Linked DNA regions of Homo sapiens: all the other regions are linked to region 1. Evidence: fine-mapped expression QTL. A gene starts in region 1. Each other region holds a variant in brackets. All regions are shown on one strand. Distances are between the middles of the regions.

Region 1 (5,000 bases):
CCCTCCCCATCCAGGGGTCTGGGCTGCTGAGAGCAGCAGCCTAGAACTCAGAATCAAGACAACCCCAGTACTCATGAGGCCCCCAGCTGACTGACTCCATTACAGACGGCCTTTGGGGCTCCCCACCTGGATGCCCCAGACAGAACAGGCAGCGCGCATCTGTCCTTCCCACTGTGTTTACATGATGCATTCTGGGTCTGTGAATGGTAATGTGGATTCTTTTGAAACCCCCTCCCTGTCTTCCACCTCACGTGAACTGGGAGGTGGACAGAACTTCAACCTAGGAATTCCACAACCAGCGACAGCAAATGAGGAGCCGGAGTATCACACAACACAGGAAGCTTTATTCATCCGCTGCTGGTCCAAAGAGTGGGTCGCAGGGTCACTCACTTTAATATGCTGTCATCTTGGGCCGGAAGGTTAGAAGAAAAGCACATGTTACCACTCAGGCAACCTAAAAAGACCACTTCAGCTTCCCAGTTATTTTTTTTTTTTTTTTTTTTGTTTTGAGACGGAGTCTCGCTCTGTCACCCAATGGCGCAATCTCAGCTCACTGCAACCTCTGCATCCCAGGTTAAAGCGATTCTCCCACCTCAGCCTTCTGAGTAGCTGGGATTACATGCACCCGCCATCATGCCTGGCTAATTTTTTTTAGACAGAATTTCACTTTGCTGCTCAGGCTGGAGTGCAGTGGCGTGATCTCAGCTCACTGCAACCTCCGCCTCCCGGGTTCAAGCAATTCTCATGCCTCAGCTTTCTGAGTAGCTGGGATTACAGGTGCCTGCCACCATGCCCGGCTGATTTTTTGTATTTTAGTAGAAATGGGGTTTCACCATCTTGCCCAGGCTGGTCTCGAACTCCAGAGCTCAGGCAATCTGCCTGTCTCAGCCTCCCAAAGTGCTAGGATTACAGGCATGAGCCACCGCACCGGGCCATGCCCGGCTAATTTTTGTAGAGACAGGGTTGCACCATGTTGGTCAGGCTGGTCTTGAACTCCTAACCTCAGGTGATCTGCCCGCCTTGGCCTCCCAAAGTGCTGGGATACAGGCATGAGCCACCACGCCTGGCCAGCTTCCCCATTTTTAAACAATCCGCATCTACTTAGCTCTGCTTAAATGTCCTCCTCCATTTTCCTTATCCCTGCACAAACCTGGGAGGGACAATCTATAAGAGCCAGTGTCACTCGTACCTTCTGCCAATTCTCTGGCAATCCGTTTCAGTTCATCCTGCTTCTTCTTCTCTTCTGCTGCTATCCTCCTCTCCTCTTCTGCCCGAGGTTTTAGGTAATCTGTTTGGCGGAATGCAGGAGAATAAAATTCACTGGAAATGCTGTACAAAAGGAACTGAGTCCACAGGTCAAGGTATCTTCAGCGACGCTGTAAACCAGACGCACCTGCTGTTCCCGCTCTTTATGTTAATGCGAGTCAACGCCTGACCTTCACCCTGACGAGTCCAACCCAGAGGCTACAGGGCCCCTGCTGCCCACCCGCTCACGCACTGGCTCACTCGTCCTCTGCGAACAGGGACTGCCTCCCATCAAGACCTCAGCACTCGAACAGCCATTTAGCACCCGTTTTCACCAAGAAGCAGCCGTTTTCGAGTCCCCCGCCCGGGCCTCAGAAGCCTGAGCTTTGGGTGAGCTGATTCCACTATCGGGGTCACGCTCGGTGGAGGACACGGTCCTGCAGCCTCGCATGCGTCCCAAGCCCCCTTCCAGAGCTGGAGTTCTCCAAATAGCACAGGAGCTCCACAGGAAAGCCGAGCAGACCCCGCCCCGGCCCCGCCCGCGGTCACTCACTGTAGCGCGTGGCTCCGTAGGCCACACCGAGGAACAGGGCGGAGTAGCGGCCGAGCTGCGAAAGAGGTTGGTCAGAGGCGGCGCGAAACGGGGCTCGCGGGACGGGGGTCGCGGGAGGAGGGGGGGCGGGGTCGCTGGGCAGAGGTCGCAGGAGGGGTGGGGGTCCGGTCGCCGGGCGAGGGTCACGGGGCGAGGATCATGGGGGCGGGGGCCGGGGGTCGCAGCCCGCGGGGTCGGAGCTGCGGGGCGGGACACGGGGGGGCCCAGAGCACTGGGCGGCGGCTGCAAAGCCTGGATCACCTTGATGAGCGGAGAGACCTGCACCGGTGGCACCATCTTGTCCCTGACCTCCGCACCGGAAGCACAACCTGCAGACGGAGCAGGATGCCGCACAAGCCAGCAAAGCCTTGGAGGCAAAGGCGGAGCTGGGCGCACGCATGCGCCGTCAGCGGCGAGAGAGCGGGGGGCCGCGCCCCCTGGCGACCGAAGGGTGACTGCGCGCCCCCGCGCGGCGGTGACGTCACGTGAGGCGCACGCGCACAAAGGCTGGGGAGTGCGCGGAGGATCATCGGCTGCGCCTGCGCAGTTGCTGCGTGAGGCGGGATCTGCGCCGAGTGGGCGGGGGGTTTCCTTTCCCCGCAGGGCTGGGGGTCCGCTGTTTCCCCGCGCTGCTGCCGAGGCCCCGCCGTCCGCGTCCTGGCCGTGTGTCCACACCCCAGACTGCGGGCCGGGGCGCACTCTGTCTTCTTGCGCGGAGCGTCGGAGGCCTGAGGTCAGGGCGGCTCGGGCGGGTCCAGCCCCGCGGACCGCGCCCACCCGAGGGTGGCCTGGGCAGGGACCTGGGGGTCCTGGGAGCGGAGTGTGAGCCGAGTGCAGGTGGCTCCCCGGGCAGGTCCTTCTCCTACAAGGCAGTAGTGTCTGTCGCCGGCCGGGCCGCGTTGGATTCCGCGGCCCGCGGGAGCATGGCCTCCAGGCCCCTCTTCCTGCGGCTGCTCTGCCCGGGAGCACGGGGCGCCCTTCATCCCGGAGCTGGAGCTTCCTCACCCCAGGATGCCCCATCACTTCTGTCCCGAAGAGGGGCTGGGATCTTCTTGGGAAGACCAGCCCCCAACAGAGGCTGCTCCCTGGGTCCCCCGACTCCAGGCCTCAGGACTCCACGGCTCCAAGGGCCTGCCCCGGCCCAGGCCTGGGGACCACTGAGCCCCACACTGGTCTTTGCTGGCCTCTGTCCACCTCCCGGTAGCTGTGTGTCTCCCACAGCTGCCCAGAGATGGGGCCTGCGGTGCCTATGCAGCCTCCCCGCTGTGCCCGAAGTGCTGACCCGCCAGCCCCATGGACACCAGGCTTGGAGTCTAGGCAGGAGCCTGGCACCCCCTCCACGTTCTGGGTCTTCCTGGCGGCAGCCATGCTGCCCGTGCTGGGCCACCCTCGGGCCCCCTTTGGCCCCATGCAGTAGTGACGCAAGGCCTCCTGTGTCCCCTCCTGGCCCTGCACTGCTACAGGCAGAAGCAACTGGAGAACTATGGCTCGGGTCTCGCTAAGGTGCAGCATCACAAACTCCAGGACTCTTGAAGCAAGCATGGGGAGGACCCGTGATCCTGGCGGCCTGGGCTACCTGTCCGGGCCTAAGTCGCCTCTGCCCCCTCTCCTGGCTTGCTCTGGGGTCCAGGGCCTGGGCCTCTCTGGCTGAGAAACTAGGAAGTCACTGGGCTCTGTTTCCTGAGCTGGGTATACCAAGGCCAGTCCTATAGGGCAGGGGTCCCCAACCCCCAGGTGCAGACCAGTACCAGCTTGTGGCCCGTTAGGAACCGGGCAGCACAGGACGAGGTGAGGGAGCATGATTGCCCGAGCTCCACCCACTTTCAGATCAGCCTGGGCATCAGATTCCCATAGGAGCGTGAACCCTACTGTGAGCTGCGCACTTGGATCTGGATTGCGCTCTGGTGAGAATCTAATGCCTGATGAACTGAGGTGGAATAGTTTCATCCCGAAACCTTCCTCCCCAACACGGAAAAACTGTCCTCCGTGAAACCTGTCCCAGGCGCCAAAAAGGTTAGGTACTTGCTGTAGGGCCACCTGATCTTTTCTCCAGCTTCTGTGAGGTTGGCTGGCAGTCCCTGAAGACTCCTGCCTGAGGCCTCTGCCTGAACCCTGTCCTCAGGGGGCCAGAAGCAAACTCCAGCCCTCCCCGTGTCTACTGCTCGCTGAGGAAGCCGCAGGTGCACACTGGATCCACAAGGCACAGAACCATCTTGGCCCTCGGCAAGCCCCCGCTTCCGCCAGGGCAGACGGCCTCAGGTGACAATGGGTTTTCCCTTCACTGGAGTTTAAAATAATCCAGACTCCTCAGCAACTCCTGCTTCCAGAATCAAAAATAAGTGTCTCTGGGGCCCAAGGTAGGGGGTGAGGGGGACATACCAGCAGCTTCCACCAGAGGTGGGGCGGGGCAGGGCACCAGCAGAGAAAACATGCGGGCAAACACACACGGCCTGGGGAAAACCCCCTGAAGCCAATGGAGACTTGCCTTTGCTCAAGGCCTTTCCTGAGAGCTTAGTGGTGGGACGGGTCCCACCTGGCTCAGCACACCGCCCGCAGGGGCCTCTGCAGCTGTCAGGTCAGCTGTGGGTGCAGAAGCCGATACTCCCCCGGCTCAGGCTTGCTGCTATCTTTAGCACTGTGCTCAGACTCCAGTGGCCTGGGAACCCTCTGCAGGGGGCTCTGCAGCCCTTCTCACATTCCCGGTGGCCTCGGGGGGCCTCCCAACCATGCTTCCCCCCTCGGTGTGGTTCTCCCCACTCCTGCAGCCCAGCAGTGCCCCTTCAGGATCACACCCAGACCCCACTGGACTGGCAGCAGGGGATGCCCTGGCCCTTGCTCCCAGCCCCAGGGTTCCACATCTGGTCACCTGACACCTTGCAGTCGGCCCCAGGTCCCTCCTGGGCAGGTCATGCCTCCAGGGTCCTCAACCTCAGGAGTCAGTGCTTCATAGAGGCCGCTGGACCTGGGGATGGCACCAGGCAGCATCTCAGGGGACGCCAACTGTGACCATGTGTCCCTCAGGGGGTAGGACCTCTGCTCAAGAGACATGCAAGTGGCACCTGTCTTTTTAGCCTTGCAGACACGGTGGCGCCCCCAGGGATCCCACCTGCTGTTGTGGCTGCATATAGTCACTCCCACCACTGCCCCTGCAGCACCGAGGGGC
Region 2 (5,172 bases), 390 kb before region 1:
AGATCAAGACCATCCTGGCTAACACGGTGAAACCTTGTCTCTACTAAAAATACAAAAACAAAAAAAATTAGCTGGGCGTGGTGGTGGGCGCTTGTAGTCCCAGCTACTCTGGAGGCTGAGGCAGGAGAATGGCGTGAACCCGGGAGGCAGAGCTTGCAGTGAGCCAATATCACGCCACTGCACTCCAGCGTGGGTGACAGAGCGAGACTCCGTCTCAAAAAAAAAAAACAACAACCAGACATTATATTATATAATTACACCAATAAGAATATAAAAATCAGTCAAAATTATAGAAATAGTAAGTAAAATGGTGTTCTTCAGGACCTGAAGAGAAAAAAATGGCAGTTTATTGTTTATGAGGTATGAACTTTACTTTGATAAAATTAATCTAGAGATCCATTTCAAAATAATGTAAATGTACTTAACTCCACTAGGCTGTACACTTGAAAACCTTTAAGCAATGTTAGGTTTTTCATCACAACTAAATATTTACATCTACCTAAAAAGGTTACATTTTTCAAAAATCACCTTCAAATAAAAAGTGTTTCTCTCACAGAATAACATATACTCAAACAATAAATAGGTGGTAATTTTTTACTGTTTCTTTGACTACTCACCTATAAAAGAAAACAGTGATGACCACCAGAAAGAAAAATTTATAAACCAGGTAGGGGCATTATTTACACAGGCAAACACCACATAGATAACTTTTATAGGCTATAGAAATGTCTGAATTACACATATATTTTAAATTGCTCCAAGTGAAACCCAATGATTTTTATTTGAATTAAACACCACATGGTCATAAAAGGTACAGAGTTGAAAATTACCATACAAATATGAAGATTAAAAACAAAAAATAATTGAGGAGAACCTACATGAAAAAAGACTCCCCAGTAAAATAGAGTTTGAAAACAATAAAAAATTCTGACCTATAAAATATAGAATATAGATGTAGATGTATCATAAAAACAATCCTTCAAACAACTACAGTTTTCAACTGTGACTATGTACTTATGAAGATCCAGCATTTTGAATCTTTGACATGCAATGTACAGCAGTAAGAAAAAAAAAAAAAACGGCCAGCTGCAGTGGCTCACACCTGTAATCCCAGCACTTTGGAAGGCTGAGGCAGGTGGATCTCAAGGTCAGGAGTTCGAGACCAGCCTGACCATCTCTACTAAAAATACAAAACAAAAAAATTAGCCGGGTGTGGTGGCTGGCGCATGCCTGTAATCCCACCTACTCGGGAGGCTGAGGCAGGAGAATTGCTTGAATCCGAGAGGCAGAGGTTGCAGTGAGCTGAGATGGTACCATTGCACTCCAGCCTGGGCAACAAGAGCAAAAAATTCTGCCAAAAAAAAGCAGCAGTTATGTCCTGAAAAAGGAAATTTATGGGAGCTTTGGAATCCATGTCAAGGGTTGTGAACCCAAGACTGAGGAGGGCTGTATTGAAAAGGCATGCCCTTGCTTGAGTGGCATGCTTGCCCATCACAGTCCCAGCTACAGAATAAAATGTGTCCAATTTTCATTGTAGACTTAGCTGCAGACCATTTGGTTTTGTTCCTGCTACTAGCACCATCTGCAAAGACACCTAGGAGAATTTCTAATGTTCTATGCCTCAGGTGAAAGGCCTTTAGAAGTTGGTTCTATCTGTGATCTCTGAATTAGCCCCAAATCCACTCTTTACACATGTCAGTCATGGTGTGGAAGGAATCCTGCCCAGACACCCACAGAGAGAAACATCCATCTGTGCCCGAATGTAGGCTTGCCAATAATTATTTGACAGTGGATCTTGACGTGGCACTATAAGCTGGCTCCAAGTCCATGCAACCAAGTCCAGAAGAAGTTTTTCCTAACCTGGGACCTGCCAAAAAGCACACCTGTATGTGCCCCTGTAGGCATGCTGGCTGACTTTATTCCCACTGTGAATTGTAAAGCAGTCCTATAACCAAGCTCTGGTCTCTGTCATCTAGAGTCTGGAAGAAGTCCTACCCACCTAGAAATCCACAGGGAGAAATACCGTTAACCCAGAAAAAGACCTGAACACTTTGGTCTCAGCTGTGTATCCTGAAGCAGCCGCATGAATCAGTTTCATACCCTCTCAGCTGTGATCAAGGGTCATTACTGCTCATCTAGGAACCTGTCCAATGACTAGGTTAGAGCATTTCCAAACACCTCGCAAGAGCGACACAGCAGGAGCCACACCTGCTCACATTGATTGTATCAGCACCTTAATCTGCATATATAACTGGAGGCTTTTTTCCTCAGTGCCAGTCATATTGATCAACATCTTGAAGAAAGTTCAGTCTTCTCAGAAAATAGAATCCACAACTGTCTGATGCCCTGATGACAGGTCTGCCAAGCAGGAATTTCACTGCAAACCCAGTAGTAGCTAC[G/A]TGACCCGGATTCCAAAGCACTTTATTGCAACCTCAGTGGAAATCTCATCAGCCCAGAAATCCAATGGGAGAAGATATTTACCTCCTCAAACTAGTCTATAATGACTGAAAGAGGTATTTACTCCTTCAGATGCAAGGACATCAAAACAAAGCCTCATGAATTATGAAGGATCAGGCAAACATAACAGCATGAAAGGAAACTAAAAATGCTCCAGGAAGCACTAACAATAAAACACAGATCTAAAAAATGGCTAACAGAGAATTTAAAATAATTATCTTTAAAAATCTCGATAAGATGCAAAAGTACACATATTACTAAATTTTTTGCAACAATGCATGAAGAAAACCAATGATAATAAAGAAAGATAAGCCATTAACAAAGAACCAAGGCGATATGCTGGAGCTGAAGTACACAATAGTAGAACTAAAATATTTAACAGAAAGCTTTAACAGGAGACTCAGTTATACAGAAGGGGAAAAATCAACAAACTTAAAAGTCATTTGAAAGTTCGTAAATAGACTTTTTTTAAAAAAGTGAATAAAGCATATAGCTTCAATAATTTGTTAATGGTATATAATATAAAAAGATGTAAAGTGTGACATAAATAGTGTGTTGAAAGGAGTAAAACTGTTTAATATTTTTATACATAGAAGTTCACTTTTGCTTGAGGCCAGGAGTTCAAAACCAGCCTGGTCAATATAGCAGGACCCTGTCTCTAAAATAAATACATAAATAAAATAAAATAAAGATTTCAGAAAGCTATTTATTCTTTTTTTAAAAAGAAGCAGTTGGGCCTGATAATGCATGCCTATAAACCTAGCACTCTGGGAGGCCAAGGCAGGTAGATTTCTTGAGCCCAGAAGTTCATGACCAGCCTGAGCAACATGGCAAAACCCTGTCTCTACAAAAAATACCAAAAAAATTAGCTGGACATGGTGGCATGTGCTTGTAATCCCAGCTACTTGGGAGGCTGATATGGGAAAAGTGTTTGATATTGGAGAGTTCAAGGCTGCACTGAGCTGTGAACCCACCACTGCACTACATCCTGGGAAACAAAGTAAGATCCTATGTGGGTAAAAAAGAAGTTAGATTGTTACCTTAAGCTAGACTTTTTAAACTATGAGATATTTTATGGTCCCTTGGAAATTACAAAAAAAAAAATGTTGAAGATACATACACACAAAAGAAATTAAAGCATATAACAAGAAAAATGAAACAAACTCAACACCATACAAGGGAAGGCAGCATGAAAGAAAAAACAGAAATTACTAAATGGTTAGAAAACAATGAACAAAATGATAGTAATAAGTTCTTATCAATCAGTAATTCCTTTAAATATAAAAAAAATTTAGTTAGCCAATAAAATCACATTGCTATGGTTTGAGTGCCCCCTCCAAAATTCATGTTAAAATGTAACTGCCATTGTGAGAAAATTAATAAGTGAGGCCTTTAAGAAGTTATAAGGTCATGAGAGGATCAGTATCATTATTCCACGAGTGGGTTAGTCATCATGAGTGGGTCTATCATAAAAGTGAGCTCGTGTTGTGATGTGGAAATATGATTGTCATCAGATGGGAATGACATGCTCTTGGACTTCTTGGCATCCCAGATTGTGAGCTAAGGAAACTTCTATTCTTTATAAATTACCAACTGTAGGATATTGTTATTGATGCAAAAAATAAACTAAAACACTCGCGAAATGTCTGAATAGATTTAAAAAATCAACAACATGCTGCACACAAGCGACTTACTTTAGATTTAAGGAAATACATAGGTTAGTGGTTCAAGGATGAAAAAAAAATTCCATGCCAGTAATAACTAAAAGAGTATAGAAGTGGCTATATTTACATCAGACAAAATAGACTTCTAAAAAAAATCTGCCACAAAAAAAAAAACTTCATGATATAGTGATAAGAGGCTAATCTGTCAAAAGAATATAACAATTAAAAATATATATATACCCAATATTGGAGCACATAAATATATAAACATATATTAAAAGAAATGGAGAAACAGAAAAACATAATACTGGGGGACTATATTGCCCTACTTAATACATCATTCAGACTGAAAGTTAGTAAGAAAACAATTGCTTGCATAGCACTATAAAACAACTGCACCAAAAGACATATATATAGAACATTTCATCCAAAAGAATAATTTATATTCTTCTCAAACACACATGGAATATTCTCTAGCATACATCATAAATCTGGCCCACAACAAAGACAAACAAGTCTTTTCATTTTTTAAAAGACTGAAATCATATCAACTTGTTTGTGTTTTTTTTAGTTTTTTTGAGAAGGAGTCTTGCTCTGTCGCCCAGGCTGTAGTGCAGTGGTGCGATCTCGGCTCACTGCAAGTTCCGCCTCCAGGGTTCACGCCATTCTCCTGCCTCAGCCTCCTGAGTAGCTGGGACTACAGGCACCCGCCACCACGCCCGGCTAATTTTTTTGTATTTTTAGTAGAGACAAGGTTTCACCTTGTTAACTAGGATGGCCTCGATCTCCTGACCTCGTGATCCACCCACCTCAGCCTCCCAAAGTGCTGGGATTATAGGCATGAGCCACCGAGCCCAGCCTGAAATCATATCAAGTTTTTAAATTACAATTTTATAAATGAGAAATCAATAGCAGAGTGAACATTGAAAATCTTACAAATATGTGTATATTAGACAACATGCTTCTGAACAACTGATGAGTCAAAGAAGAAAAAGAAAAGAAAAATCAGAAAGTATCTTGAGACAAATGAAAATAGAAATAGGACATATCA
Region 3 (5,172 bases), 340 kb before region 1:
CTTTAAATGGGACCCCAATCCATTTCCCTCACTGTGTGAGTTCTCCCAGCAGGGGCCTCCAGCTGCCCCACCCATATTCTATGAACAGAGTTCTGATTTCTCTCTGGGATGGAATGCCCATGGTGGAGGGGCGCCCTGCCACCTTGGCTGTTTGGGGGACTAAGCCATTTAAGCCTGAGGGTTTGGAGAGTCCAAGCAGATTTGGGCAGAGGTGGTTCCCCAGCATGCCATGGCTGTTTTGTTGAAGCATAGTCCTACTGCTTCTTTAAGTGGGACCCCAATTCATTCCCCCTTGCTGGGCGGGTCCTCCCAGCCAGGGCCTCCATCTACTTCTGCCCAAGTTCTAAGGCCAATAGAGTTCTAATTTCTCCGTGGGATGGAGTGCCCAGGGGGTGCGGTGGGCCACCATTTTTGCTGTTTGGGCAGGTAAGTTAGTGCAGACTGTGGGCTTTGGATAGCCCAAACCATTTGAGAGCTGAAGGAATCCACAACACAGCACAGATGCTCTACCAAAACACAGCCAGACTGCTTCTTTAAGTAGGCTGCTGACCCCATTCCTCCTGGTTGGGTGAGACCTCCAATCCAAAGCCTTCAGCCACCTTCTACAGGTGTGTTCAGGCAGGCAACAGGTCAGTATGCATTCTGACCTGACAAAGGGGCAGGCTGCCATCTTTGCTGTTTCACAGCCTTAACTGGTGATACTTCCAGATACTGAAAAAGCCAAGGGCACCAGGGTCTGGAGCAGACCTCCAGAAAACCACAGCAGCCCTACACACAGTGGTCAGACTGTTAAAAGAAAAACAATAAATAACAAAAAATAACCACAATAACCCTATCCAAAGGTCAGCAATCTCACACATTGAAATAGATAAGCCCACAAAGATGAGAAGTGGCACAAAAATGATGAAAACTCAAAAGTCAGAGTGTGCCCTTTTCTCCAACTGACAGCAACACCTGTCCAGCAAAGGATCAGAACCAGGCTGAGGCTGAGATGGCTGAAATGAGAGAAGTAGGCTTCAGAATATGAATACAGATGAACTTGGCTGAGCTAAAAGGGCACACTGTAACTCAATGCAACGAAGCTAAGAATCACGATAAAACAATGCAGGAGCTGGCAGCCAAAATAGCCAGTAAGAAGAGAAACACAAACGACTTGATAGAGCTGAAAAACACACTACAAGGCCTCCACGATGTAATCACAAGTATTAATAGCAGAATAGACCAAGCGGAGGAAAAAACATCCCAGAGCTTGAAGACTGTCTTCCTGAAATCAAACAGGCAGACACAAATAAAGAAAAAAAAAAAGGAATGAATGAAACCTTAGAATATGGGATTGTGTAGAGAGTGAATATACAACTGATGGGGGTAGCTGAAAGAAATGGGGAGAACTGAACCAAATTGGAGAACATATTTCAGGATATCATCCAGGAGAACTTCCTCAACCTAGCTAGACAGGCCAACATTCAAATGCAGGAAATGCAGAGAGCCCCACTAAGATATTCCATGAGAAGATTACTCCCAAGACAGGTAATCATCAGATTCTCCAAGGTCAAAATGAAATAAAAATATCTTAAGGGCAGATAGAGAGTAAGGCAAGGCCACCTACAAAGAAAAGCTCATCAGACTAACAGCAGACCTTGTGGGGGTTCAGACAGACTGGTGAAAAAAGTTTTAGTTATAATAGCCATAAACCCTCTTGGAAGGCCTGAGGGTTTTGCAAAACTTCGGTAATAGATCTGGCTGAAGGCGGCCTGGTCACTTTACCTTAAGTTATTAACTTAGGGCACAAATACAAACGGATGTAGAGTAGTTTATCTAACTACCTTGTTTACTCATGTGGTCCTCAGACTAACCTTTGATCTTGGGTGCTTAATTGCTTTCTACTCGCGAAGTCGGCAATGTCAATTACCTTCTAGTGGTGTTTACTCAAAGTTTTGTTACTTAATCTTTACCAAATAAATGCAAGTTTCGCTGGCTGGTTGGTGTGGCGGCTGCTACTCCCTACAGCACCTCTGTTAGTCTGTGAGGCAGCCTGGACCCTCAGTTGCACTGGCAAAGCAGAATATCTGCATCAGTATACATTGTTCATCCGTCATTGAGTCAGGGTCAGCGGGTCGGACCCCCGCAAGACTTCTCACTGGAAACCCTACAAGCCAGAAGAGACAGAAATAACAGGCTGGGCACAGTGGCTCATGCCTGTAATCCCAGCACTTTGGGAGGCTGAGGCAGGCAGATCACTTGAGGTCAGGAGTTTGAGACCAGCCTGGCCAACATGGTGAAACCCCGTCTATAATAAAAATACAAAAAATTAGCCAGGCATGGTGGTGCATGCCTGTAATCCCAGCTACTTGAGAGGCTGACGCAGGAGAATCGCTTGAACCTGGGAGGTGGAGGTTGCAGTGAGCCAAGATCATGAATCGCACTCCAGCCTGGGCAACAAGAGTGAAACTCTGTCTCGAATACATACATACATACATACATACATACATACATACATACATATATATATATATATATACCTATGTAGGGACCAGCCCCACAGAGTCTGTGGGTTTTTCTCTCCGTGTGCGGAGATGAGAGATCGTAGAAATAAAGATACGAGACAAAGAGATGAAAGAAAAGACAGCTGGGCCCGGGGGACCACTACCACCAAGACGCAGAGACCGGTAGTGGCCCCGAATGCCTGGCTGCCCTGTTATTTATTGGATACAAAGCAAAAGGGGCAAGGTAAAGAGTGCGAGTCATCTCCGGTGATTGGTAAGGTCACGTGGGTCACGTGTCCACTGGACAGGGGGCCCTTCCCTGTTAGGTAGCCGAAGCGGAGAGAGAGAGGACAGCTTACGTCATTATTTCTTTTACGCTCTTTTCAGAAAGATCAAAGACTTTAATACTTTCACTAATTTTGCTACTGCTGTCTAGAGGGCAGAGCCAGGTGTACAGAGTGGAACATGAAAGTGAAACAGGAGCGTGACCGCTGAAGCACAGCATCACAGGGAGACGGTTAGGCCTCCAGATAACTGCGAGCAGGCCTAACTGATGTCAGGCCCTCCACAAGAGGTGGTGGAACAGAGTCTTCTCTAAACTCCCCTGGGAAAAGGGAGAGTCCCTTTCC[C/T]GGTCTGCTAAGTAGCGGGTGCTTTTCCTTGGCACTGATGCTACAGCTAGACCATGGTCTGCTTGGTAATGGGCATCTTCCCAGACGCTGGCGTTACCGCTAGACCAAGAAGCCCTCTAGTGGCCCTGTCTGGGCATGACAGAAGGCTCGCACTCTTGTTTTCTGGTCACTTCTCACCGTGCCCCCTTCAGCTCCTATCTCTGTATGGCCTGGTTTTTCCTAGGTTATAATTATAGAGCAAGGATTATTATAATGTTGGAATAAAGAGTAATTGCTACAAACTAATGATTGATATTCATATATAATCATATCTATGATCTATATCTAGTATAACTCTTGTTGTTTTATATATTTTATTACACTGGAACAGCTCGTGCCCTCAGTTTCTTGCCTCGGCACCTGGGTGGCTTGCTGCCCACATACCTAAATGGTTTTTATGATATTATTATTACATTTTGTTCTTAATTTTCAGTATGTTGATTGCTGTTATATAAAAGATTTAACCTTGTCTATTAATCTTGTATTTTGTGACATTAATAAAATTTTTTATTAACTGAAGTATGTTTTTGGTAAATTTATCATAGTTTTTAACCCAATATTATGGCAAGATAATAGTATCCTACTTCTTTTCTAATCTGAAGATTTTATTTATTTTTCTAGTATACTTTTCTGGCTAATACTTCCAGGACAGTGTAAAAACAGAGTGGAAAAAGTGTACATTCTTGTTCCATTTTTAAACTTACAGATACAGCCTGCAATCATCTACCGTTAAGTATACTATTAGCTATTGATTTCTTTTTTTTTTTTTTTTTTTGAGACAGAGTCTTACTCTGTTGCCTAGGCTGGAGTGCAGTGGCTCAATCTCGGCTCACTGCAACCTCTGCCTCCCGGGTTCAAGCGATTCTCCTGCCTCAGCCTCCTGAGTAGCTGGGATTACAGGCACACACCACCACGCCTGGCTAATTTTTGTATTTTTAGTAGAGATGGGGTTTCACCATGTTGGTCAGGCTGGTCTCAAACTCCTGACCTCCTGATCTGCCCACCTCTGCCTCCCAAAGTGCTGGGATTACAGATGTGAGCCACCGTGCCCAGCCAGCTATTGATTTCTTATAGATGCTTTTTAGCAGGTCTTACAAGTTCCTTTCTACTAGATTTCTGAGTGTTTTATCATGAACGGGTGCTGGATTTTTTATACTTTTTTTGCTTATTTACATTGACACTTTTTTCTATTGTTCAAGTAACATTTTGTAATATTTTGGTTGATTTTAAAAATATTAAGCCAACACTCCATTTGTGACAAACTATTGCTTGGTTATGGTATGTAATCAGTTTTACATGTTGCTGGATTTAGTGTGCCAACATTTCTTTTTTTTTTTTTTTTGAGATGGAGTCTTGCTCTGTCACCCAGACTGGAGTGCAGTGGCACAATCTCGGCTCACTGCAACTTCTGCCTCCTGGGTTCATGCGATTCTCCTGCCTCAGCCTTCCAAGTAGCTGGGACTACAGGTGCGCGCCACCACGCCCAGCTAATTTTTGTATTTTTAGTAGAGACAAGGTTCCACCATGTTGGCCAGGATGGCCTTGATCTCTTGACCTCATGATCCGCCTGCCTCAGCCTCCCAAAGTGCTGGATTACAGTCATGAGCCACCATGCCCAGCCGTGTGCTAACATTTCTAATAACTTCATCAGGAATTCTATATTTATATGGAATTTTAGTCCATAGTCTTCTTTACTTGTGATTCTTTTGTCTGGCTTTGGTATCACAGTACCCCTAGCTAGTAAATTAATAGAAAAATGTTACCTCTGCCATTGATGAAAGTTTATGTGAAAAAATTATATTACATTTTTATTAAATGTCAGTGAAATTCAGAATTAATGCAATTTGACACTGAGCTTTTATATGTAAAAATAATTTAATTAATACTTTCTATTGTTATATGGGTATTCACTTACTCTCATTTAATATATATGGATGTATATTCTTCATTTTTGCACAATGAAAACTGATTTCTCAGCATTATTTGTTGAACAAACTTCCTCCATTGGAATTTCTTGGCAT
Region 4 (5,000 bases), 43 kb before region 1:
GGGCCTACAGGGAGCCCAGGCGGTGCCAGGCCACGTGGGACCAGCTTCTGGGAGGTGCAGGGCTTCAGCTGATGGCTCCAAGTCCCTGTCTGCTCCCAGAACCCCACGACTACACATGTTGTGTGTCACGGCAGCCCCTTGGGGAGACACAGCGAATCCCAGGGCCTGCACAAGGGGGGCCCTGCCGGGACTCAGGACTGAGCACAACCTTCCTGGAGCCTGGCCCAGGCCTGGGCATGGATTGTGAACCCTAAAACCTTGGGCTCAGGAACCACAGGTCCCAGAAGGCGGACACCAGGCCCCCCTCCATCCCTCCCAACATGTCAGAAGCCAATGGGCCAGCCGGGTGAGAGGCCCTGCCCAGCTACCCAGTGTTCATGGCTCCTAGACAAGCCTCTTGGCAGGAAGGAAGCACAGGTCGGGTGCAGAGAGGGAGGAGCGAGTGGGCCTGTGAGGTGGCATGGCCTTCCCCATCCCCCGCTGTGCACCCCGGGCAGGGACGCCGCCCACACCTGATGAGGGGGAAGCCACCAGCCCCCCCATCACCCCTTTGTGGCTCCTCAGACCTGCAAGAGTTCACAGCGAGGGCAGCTGGGATGGACGATCCTGGTGGGCTGGTGGGGCTCGGCCACGGCCACCAAGTGGCGGGGCAGGACTCACACCCCAGCTCTGACTGTGCAGCGGTTTCTGAGCCCAGCCCCAGCCGAACAGCCACGGACCCCGCAGTGCTGTGCATGCAGCCTCAGCCTCCACCACCTTCCAGCTCCTCTCCCTGGGACCGTCATGGGAACCCATCCCAAAGGCCCGTCCCGGGACCCTGGTGGGTCCCCTGCCCCCTGCCCCAAAACACCTCATCACGGGGTCCTGCACGTCGCCAGCAGTCAAGACCCTTCGACTCAGTCCTATGGTGGTCTCTACAAGGCTGGACAGAGCAGGGGCGTTGAGAACACGGGCTGGGTGGGAATCCGGAGATAGAGGGAGGAGGGTGGCAGGACCGGCCGTCAGCCATGCTGAGCACAGACGGCAGAGGAGGTGTGGGGCTTGGGCAGTTGGAGGTGCTTTGGAGAAGCCACAGTGGGTGTGAAGGCCCCAGAGCGAGGCCCAGCTGCTCGGCTATGTGAGCACACACAGCCCCCAGGCCTGCTAGAGGCAGAGCAAATGCAGGGGGTTCCCAGGAGCCTGAGAGTCCACAGCTGCCACCTGCTCCCAGACAAGGCTCCTGGCATGTCTGACCAGGAGCCTCTGGGGAAGTAGGGAAGCCCAGACTGGACAGTGGAGAGGAAGAGACCAGCAGGCAAGGACCCCCCGGCCAGGCATCACTACAGGGGACACAGAACCCAGAGGGCACCAGAGAGGAGAGACGGGGGGCCAGCAGGGGCCACGTGTTAATCTTCACCGACAGACACACGATGGTGTGGCTGCATTTCACAATGGGTGGGGCAGCTGGCAGTCGGACAGGGAGGCCGAGGGATCCATCCCTGTGGCCGAGGGGAGTTTGCAGGGCTGTCATCTCAGGAAGTGAAGGCTGGGCTGGGGTCGGGCTGCTGGGCCACGAGGGGCAGCGGGAGGGAGCCGCTGAGGCTGGAAGCTGCACCAGCCAGGCTGGGACCAGGGTGGCTGTGGCCCGGCTGGTACCGAGTGCCCATCCATGCAAGGGCAGCAGAGTGACCAGACGCTGGGGAAAGGAGAGCAGGTGTCAGTGAGAGAGTGGCCGGATGTTTCCGCGTGGGACTCTTTGCAGTCTCGATGGCAGACTTACAAAAAAGTAAACATTCCCTGTGGTGTTAGGGAAGCTGAGGAGGGCAGAGGGCAGAGTGCAAGCCAGGGTTTGGAGCAGATGTTCCTGGGGAGCCCCTGGGCTGGGCCAGCTGCTCGCAGAAGCCTGACAAGGTACAGGGAAGGAGGAACGAGGGGCAACCTCACTCAAAACCAGCTGCTCAGAGGAGCATAGCTTCTGGCAGAACCTCCGCGGTGGCCAAGCCCCAATTCCGGCTGCCTGCTCTGGACCTCTAAGGAGCTGTTCCTCTCGGTCCTAAGGGTGTGGGGGCTGGTGAGACACAAAGAGGCTGCAGTCACAAAGCCTCAGCGTGAAGGTCTCAGTGCTGGGACCAAGGGTGTATCTGGCACAGGCCTGGAAGGACCAGGGAGTGAATGGGGCCAGTGGTGAAGGAGAGAAGCTGTCGGCATAAGGATGGTAACGGCAGCCCACCTCAGCTGGGACAGCTGAAATGGAGCCAGGTGCCTGCTGAGACCAGTGACGCAGCCAGGAAGGCAGGGGACCCAGGAGCAGCTGTGAAGGAGAAAAGACGGCAGACGAACGGGCTGAGAGAGCATTTTACAGAGTCCTGAGTGCGCTTAAATCCCAGGATGGGGAGAGACTATGAAGAAGAGAAGGTGACAAATAGGGTGAGGTTCTTGGGTGGAGGGTAGGCCACAAGAGAGAGGCAGGAAGGCTCTGTGGCTGTTCCCATACTTTCTTTGTGAAA[CAA/C]GAGCTGTGAAAACGTGTGGGGCAGAGAGAAGTGACAGAGTCAGGTCTGAGATCCAGGAAGAAACTGGTAGAGACAAAGCTGGCAAGAGAAGTGAGGCTGAACATTGATCAACCATAGCCTGTGTGACTATGGGGCACCATCTGAGGGTCACTTTGTGTGGATCTGTGTGGCTCCATCTAAGAGTCACATTGTGTGGATCCTGTGGCACTGTCTGAGGGTTACATTGTGTGGATCCCTGTGGCGCTGTCTGAAGGTCATGTTATGTGGATCTGTGTGACACCGTCTGAGGGTTACATTGTGTGGATCCTTGTGGCACTGTCTGAGGGTTATGTTGCGTGGATCTGTGTGGCACCATCTGAGGGTCACATTGTATGGATTTGTGTTTGGGACCATCTAAGGGTCATGAGGATCACGTTGCGTGGATCCATGTGGCTCCATCTGAGGGTCACGTTGTGTGGATTTATGTGTGGGACCATCAAAGGGTCATGAGGGTCACATTGTGTGGGTCCATGTGGCACCATCTGAGGGTCACATTGTGGGGATTTGTGTGTGGGACCATCAAAGGGTCATGAGGGTCACGTTGTGTGGGTCCATGTGGCACCATCTGAGGGTCACGTTGTGTGGATCTGTGTGACACCATCTGCTATCTCAGGGTCACATTGCATGGATTCATGTGTCACCATCTGAGGGTCATCCTGTGTGGAACTGTGTGGCACCATCTGCTATCTCAGGGTCACATTGCATGGATTCATGTGGCACCATCTGAGGGTCATGTTGTGTGGATCTGCATGGCACCATCTGAGGTCATCCTGTGTGGATCTATGTGACACCATCTGCTATCTCAGGGTCACATTGCATGGATTCATGTGGCACCATCTGAGGGTCATGTTGTGCTCTTTCCAGAATCTCTGGTATATGTCCAGGTGTCACGCTGTGATCTGTGTGGCACCATCTGAGTGTCACGTTATGTGAATCCATGTGGTATCAGCTGAGAGTCATGCTGTGTGGATCCGTGTGGCACTGTCTGGGGGTCACGTTGTGTGGATTTGTGTGTGGCACCATCTAAGGGTCATCTTGTGTGATGCCATCTGAGGATCACATGTGGATCCATGAGGCACCGTCTGAGGATCATGTTGTGTGGATCCATGTGGTGCCGTCTGAGGGTTATGAGGGTCACATTGTGGGGATCTGTGTGGTGCCATCTCAGGGTCACGTTGTGTGGATCTGCGTGGCAGCATCTCTGGATCACGTTTTGTGGATCCATGTGGCACCATCTCTGGATCATGTTGTGTGGATCTGCATGGTGCCGTCTGGGGGTCACATGGTGGGGATCTGTGTGGTGCTGTCTCAGGGTCACGTTGTGTGGATCCGTGTGGCACCATCTCTGGATCACCTGTGGATCTGCGTGGTGCTGTCTGGGGGTCACATTGTGGGGATCTGTGTGGTGCTGTCTCAGGGTCACGTTGTGTGGGTCCGTGTGGCACCATCTCTGGATCACGTTGTGTGGATCCATGTGGCACCATCTCTGGATCACGTTGTGTGGATCTGCATGGTGCCGAGGGTCACATTGTGTGGATCTGTGTGGTGCCGTCTGAGGGTCATGTTGTGCTCTTTCCATAATCACTGGTATATGTCCAGGTGTCATGCTGTGAAGATCAGCAACCAGGGAAGGACCCCAGGTGAGGGTGTCAGTGAGGTTGGCAAGGGATGGGTAAAAGGATGGGCTCCAGGTAGAAAGGGAGGGAAACAGTAACAGAGACTCTGAATTCATCAGGGAGCACACATGGTGGCCACTGTAGCACTGACGGCTGGTGGAGGAGACACTGTCCAAACTGCCACAGGCACAACAGGCACCACGACAAGCAGGCAGGAGTGTGCTGTGCTTGGCCTCAGGGGACACAGGTGCAGAGATGAGCCCTCGGGGGACGCAGGTGCAGAGATGAGCCCTCAGGGGTTGCAGGTGGTGAGATGAGCCCTCCCTCAGGGCCCATCCCTGTTTCAGATCCAATAAAGGGATGCTGGCTCCACTGCCCACGCTGCCACCCCTGCCAGGGCTCACTCACCCGTCTTCCTGCTCCACCATCTTTTAAATGCTGGTTTTCCTTCAATGCCAGCCCACATGGCTATGGGCAGCAGCTGTATCTCCAAGAATCAGGAAATGAGGAGCAGGAAGGGTGGGTGCCATTTAGGAGCACGCTAGCACCTCGGCCAGCCCCCAGCAGGCTTCCTCTGACCTCTCAACCTTGCTGCAGGGGAAGGGGGTGGAGGGGAGTTGCGAGGAGTCTGCCCTCTGCTGCTGCAGGGCCACCGTCCCTAGAAACAGCAGGAGATGTGAGGCGCATCCCAGGAGCTCCCATTCAGCTGGCGCAGTGGCTGAGGGCAGAGCCTGTTATTTTTGCCCCATTGACTGGTGAGGAGAAGGCCACAGAACCACCCTGTGCCCACTGCAGGTCGCACAGGTGGGAAGTCCTGACCCCAGCAGGGCTGACTCCGGAGCCGTCCACCTGGGTC
Region 5 (5,172 bases), 25 kb after region 1:
AGATGGGTATTTAATGTTTTTGCCTGTCTTTTGGCAGGTAGGTATTGTGTGTGTGTGTGTGTGCGCGCGCACATGCCTGTGTGTAGTGTATGTGTCTAATTTCTCTGTGGGTATGACTGATATCTAACATTTTGTGTATAGTGTGGCATAACTACTTTGTGTATGTTATCAAATTTTTATTGAATATGTTGGAAATGAGCATCTATCTTTGTTTTTTGTTTTTGTTTTGTTTTTCTTTTTGAGATGGAGCTCCTTCTGTTGCCCAGGCTGGAGTGCAGTGGCGCGATCTCAGCTCACTGCAACCTCCACCTCCTGGGTTCAAGCGATTCTTCTGCCTCAGCCTCCCGAGTAGCTGGGATTACAGGCGCCTGCCACCACGTCTGGCTAATATTTGTATTTTTAGTAGAGACGGGGTTTCACCATGTTGACCAGGCTGGTCTGGAACTCCTGACCTCAGGTGATCCACCTGCCTCGGCCTCCGAAAGTACTGGGATTACAGGCGTGAGCCACTGCACCCAACCAATTTTGTTCTTTTTAAGGTTGTTTTGGCTATTCTGAGTCCCCTGAATTTCCATATAAATTTTAGGATCAGCTTGTCAATTTCTGAAAAAAGCTCATTAGGACTTTGATATGGATTGTGTTGAATGATTAGGTTGGAGACACCTTAACAATATTGTCTTCCCACCACGGACGCAGGACATCTTTCCATTTACTTAGACCTTCTTTAGATTCTTTTGGTCATGGTTTGTAGTTGTAGCTTTCAGAATATTAGTTTTGCACTCTTTGGCTACATTTATTTGCTTTTTAAAATTATTAGACTTTATGTTTCAGAGCAATTTTAGATTTACAGAAAAATCTATCAGAAAGTACGGCGTTCCCATATACCCCTCTCTCCCCCAAACCCTGCACTCCACTTCCCTGTTATCTACATCTCGCATGAGTTTGGTACTTTTGTTAGGATTGATGAACCGATATCGACACGATCTTCTTAACCGAAGTCCATCCTGAAGTCCACACTGGATGCTCTTTGTGCGGTGTGTTCTATATTGGTTAGTTAGTTAGTTTGTTTGAGACAGAGTCTCCCTCTCTCGCCCAGGCTAGAGTGCAGTGGTACGACCTCGGCTCACTGCAATCTCCGCCTCCCGGGTTCAAAGGATTCTCCTGCCTCAGCCTCCCAAGTAACTGGGATTATAGGCATGTGCCACCACGTCCGCCTAATTTTTGTATTTTTAGTAGAGACGGTTTTGCCATGTTGGCCAGGTCTCAAAACTCCTGACCTCAAGTGATCCGCCTGCATCAGCCTCCCAAAGTGCTGGGATTACAGGCGCGAGCCACCGTGCCTGGCCGTTGACATTCGATGTTTAACCTACACAGTTAACTGCACATTATTCCAAGATAGGCCAAGTCCATGCAGTGTCTCCAGGCTCTTCTGAGCAGGCCGGGGCTTTAGAGCGTGCTCCCTGCTCACCACACCACACGCAGCTTTCTGGTGGTCATTGCTGAGTTTTAGTTTTGTGTAAAAACACGCACACACAGGCCGGGCGCGGTGGTTCACGCCTGTAATCCCAGCACTTTGAGAGGCTGAGGCAGGCGGATCACCTGAGGTCAGGAGTTCGAGACCCGCCCAACCAACATGGTGAAACCCCGTCTCTATTAAAAATACAAAATTAAACTCCGTCTCTACTAAAAATACAAAAAATTAGCCGGACATGGTGGCACATGCCTGTAATCCCAGCTACTCAGGAGGCTGAGGCAGGAGAATCACTTGAGCCCGGGAGGCGGAGGTTGCAGTGAGCCGAGATCGCGCCACTGCACTCAAGCCTGGGGGACAAGAGCGAGACTCCGTCTGAAAACAAACAAAACAAAACAAAAAACTACACACACACACACACACACACACACACACACACACACAGGTGAACGGCTGGAATTATTTCTCCGGCGATGGTTAAATGATACTTGGGTTCAGTTGTTGGTGATGTGCCAGCTGCTCAGGGTCTGGTTCTTCTGACTCTTTTGTGGGCGTCCTGCCTCCCCATATCCGGCATCCTACCAGGCGTCCGAGCATGTTCCTAGCACGGTGTTTGCGTCTCCACCTGCAGAGTCAGGTTAGTCCTCAAGTCTGAAGCTCCTCACGACTCTCTCTTCCTCTGCTCTTGTGAGATCATCACGTCTGCGATTTCAGCCCTGCCTGGCTCCCCTGCGCTTCCACTGCTTCCCTGCCTCCCTGTCCTCAGCAGCGTCACTTACAGCCACACCAAGCTCTTCAACTGGTTTGTGAATTACCTCATGGACTGGTTTTCGTGTGTGTCCAGGACTATAAATTTTATTTCCAAGATTTCCACCTGGTTGATTGAAACAGGCATTCACTGATGCGTTCACCCAACAAACTCCCATGAGGCCTCCTCTGCAGGGCACCTGCGGGCACTTCCGGCTCCCAGAGGGGCCTGGCGTCTGGAGGGAGAAGTGGAAGGAGACTGAAGGGCGCCTGAGGTGGGCAGGCGGCACAAGCAGCAAGCGAGGGCGGCAATCTTTTTTTTTTTTTTTTTTGAGATGGAGTCTCGCTCTGTCGCCCAGGCTGGAGTGCAGTGGCACTATCTTGGCTCACTGCAACCTCTGCCTCCTGAGTTCAAGCAATTCTCCTGCCTCAGCCTCCCAGGTAGCTGGGATTCCAGGTGCCCACCACCACGCCCAGCTAATTTTTTTTGTATATTTAGTACAGATGGGGTTTCACCATGTTGGCCAGGCTGGTCTCAAACTCCTGACCTCAGGTGATCCACCCACTTTGACCTCCCAAAGGGTTGGGATTATAGGCGTGAACCACCGGGCCCGGCTGATTTTCAACATTACCAAATATCTAATCAGTGTCCCTCACCACGATTGTTGCGTAATGTGCTTCGTTTCGTTTTCAGTTTGCGTGACTCAGGATGCAAATCAAGCCATAGGTCTACACTCACTTCCTCTCGATTGTTTCTCTCATTGTATCTTCTTCAATCCCCTGCACAGCTGGTTGTGGAAGAAACAGTTCCTAGTCCTGAGAGTTTCTGCTGACATTCCAAGGC[A/G]TCTCCCGCCTGTCCCCGAATTCTATAAATCAGTGTGAGACCCGGAGGCCTAATCAGTGTCTTAGTGTGGGTCCCCAAGAAGCAGAGCCTGAGCTAAGGGGCTTGGGGTGGGTTGGGCTGGGATCTTTCCTCGGGCGACCACCTTAGGGAGTCAGAAAGGGGCAGAGAGTGTGAAATGGGAAGAAACAGCAACGCTGAAGAAAAGGTGCATCCCAGGGCTGCCTGAGTCCCTGGGAGAGCTCCCCCTGCACCGTGGGCCCCAGCCAGAGAAGGCCTGGGACGAAGACCCACTGGGGGGCCTCCCACGGAGCAGCCAGAGGGGCGAGGCTGGGTGGGGGGACGGAGCACCTGCTGCACCTGTATTCAGGGTGGATTTTTAAGCAAGATCTCGTTGTAGCCGTGTCGCTTTCCTACCAGGAGGCCCATGACATCCGGCTGTCTCTCTGGTAATGTTCATATCAATGACGGTTGTTACCTGTGTCATTATCTCACTGGGGCTGTGACGGGGGAGAGTTTATTCTATACTTTCTTCATTTACCAGCTGCAATGTTCCTAGAGAGAAGCCAGCACTCGCCAGATCTTTGGCCACCCCGAGGTGTCGTGTGCATAAGGGAAGATGAGAGGCTGGTTGACGCCCACCCTTCACCAGTTTTGTAAATAACAAGCTGGCGCCCCAGAACCCATCCACAGCAGCTTTTTCAGTGGCATTATGCATTCGTGGTGCAAGCATCCTTACTGTGCTTCAATCAGTGGCTTCAGTCGTGGCCGGCGCACACTGATGGAGTTTCTTCCTCGTCGCGGGTCATATTTTCCTCTTTGCATGTCTGATGACTTTTGATTAGATGCAGGCGTTGTTCACTTTCCCTGTTGAGTTCTGAGTATATTTGCATTCCTATTAAATATCCCTGTGTTTTGCTCTGGACACAAAGTCAAGTTACTTGGAGACACATTGGTCCTTCCAGCCTTCTGAGCTTTGGAGTCTGGACCAGCGCAGAGTTCGCTCCTGTCCCACAGCTGACCGCCCTGCCTGGTGCCCCTGGGACGACGAGGACATCCTGGGGCCGGAGGGGGTGCAAAGACTCCCAGCCCTGTTCCGCCAGCTTCTTTCCAGAGTCCTTGCCAGCTCCGGGCAGCTCCCACATGCCTGCCCCATCCTGGAGCTCTGGCTGTGGGCAGTCCCTCCTCTCCGTCCCTGCCCTGTGGACTCTGGTGTGTGGGCCTCCCTGACTCCCAGCTTTGCCTCCTCCGCCCAGCTCCTCTCCCTGAGTTGCAGCCAGGAGGCTTCCTTTAGGCCTCGCCCCATTTGCTCCTCTCTCAGGCACCATGTCCTGTGCTCCCTGATGCCCAGTGTCTGAAGATCGTTGGATGTATTTTGTCCACTGTTTCAGCTGCTTCGGGAAAGAGGGTAAACTCACGCCCTGCACACACATGCCGATGGCACAGAGATTGAGGCTGTGAGCTTTGCCTCCCCCTGGTGTGAAAATACGTCATCTTCTGGCTTTGCAGTCAGTGCTGTGCACCTCAGTTTTGATCTGCCTTGTAGTTTTATGAGTCTCATGAGGGAATTCGGGGAGATACAAAATTCTTGCTACTGCCACCATCTTCCCAGAATCCACAGGGATTTATTTATTTATTTATTTTATTTTGAGACAGGGTCTTCCTCTGTCATCTGGGCTGGAGTACAGCGGTGCAATCTCGGCTCACTGCAACCTCCACCTGCTGGGCTCAAGCAATCCTCCCACCTCAACCTCCCAAGGAGCTGAGGCCACAGATGCACACCACCATGCACCACCATGCCCAGATACTTGTTGTTGTTTATTTTTAGTATAAACAGGGTTTCACCATGTTGCTCAGGCTGGTCTTGAACTCCTGGGTTCAAATGATCCACCAGTCTCGGCCTTTCAAAGTGCTGGGGTTATAGGCATGAGCCACTGCACCCCACCTATTTTTATTTTTTTATTTTTTATTTTTTTTAAGAGACAGGGGCCAGGCATGGTGGCTCATGCCTGTAATCCCAGCACTTTGGGAGGCCGAGACAGGTGAATCACTTGAGGTCAGGAGTTCGAGACCAACCTGGCCAACATGCCAAGACTCCATCTCTACTAAAAAT

Alleles and levels. Positions count from the first base shown, and alleles are read on the strand shown. Sizes are in standard deviations (SD) of each study's normalised expression. Not every link is listed here.
As copies of C replace T in region 3, the expression in prostate of the gene that starts at base 2,429 in region 1 goes down (large effect, 1.4 SD a copy in GTEx).

Evidence for each region.
Region 2: its variant is fine-mapped to the expression of MYL5 in whole blood (TOPMed, PIP above 0.99). The same link has a PIP of 0.9 or more in lung.
Region 3: its variant is fine-mapped to the expression of MYL5 in prostate (GTEx, PIP 0.99).
Region 4: its variant is fine-mapped to the expression of MYL5 in whole blood (TOPMed, PIP 0.96).
Region 5: its variant is fine-mapped to the expression of MYL5 in whole blood (TOPMed, PIP above 0.99).

What each region holds. Positions count from the first base shown.
Region 1 is chr4:672,114-677,113 of GRCh38, forward strand. It overlaps MYL5 (myosin light chain 5), which reads left to right and starts at 2,429. Exons shown (of 9, transcript NM_002477.2): 1 at 2,429-2,570; 2 at 3,960-4,096. ATP5ME (ATP synthase membrane subunit e) reads right to left here and starts at 2,163. Exons shown (of 4, transcript NM_007100.4): 1 at 2,099-2,163; 2 at 1,799-1,853; 3 at 1,190-1,288; 4 at 323-406. The coding sequence starts at 2,134. The coding sequence ends at 387. It also overlaps a transcript of SLC49A3 not described here. RefSeq lists enhancers at 2,295-3,052, 2,930-2,999 and a silencer at 2,450-2,719.
Region 2 is chr4:279,230-284,401 of GRCh38, forward strand. All of the region lies in intron 3 of ZNF732 (zinc finger protein 732), which reads right to left. Among named protein-coding and RNA genes, the nearest start is that of ZNF732, 24 kb to the right of the region's middle. The variant G/A (reference allele first, on the strand shown) is at 2,400.
Region 3 is chr4:327,052-332,223 of GRCh38, forward strand. No RefSeq gene overlaps it. Among named protein-coding and RNA genes, the nearest start is that of ZNF141, 8.2 kb to the right of the region's middle. The variant C/T (reference allele first, on the strand shown) is at 3,113.
Region 4 is chr4:628,755-633,754 of GRCh38, forward strand. All of the region lies in intron 1 of PDE6B (phosphodiesterase 6B), which reads left to right. Among named protein-coding and RNA genes, the nearest start is that of PDE6B, 5.7 kb to the left of the region's middle. The variant CAA/C (reference allele first, on the strand shown) is at 2,487.
Region 5 is chr4:696,646-701,817 of GRCh38, forward strand. No RefSeq gene overlaps it. Among named protein-coding and RNA genes, the nearest start is that of PCGF3, 6.6 kb to the right of the region's middle. RefSeq lists an enhancer at 4,149-4,649. The variant A/G (reference allele first, on the strand shown) is at 3,063.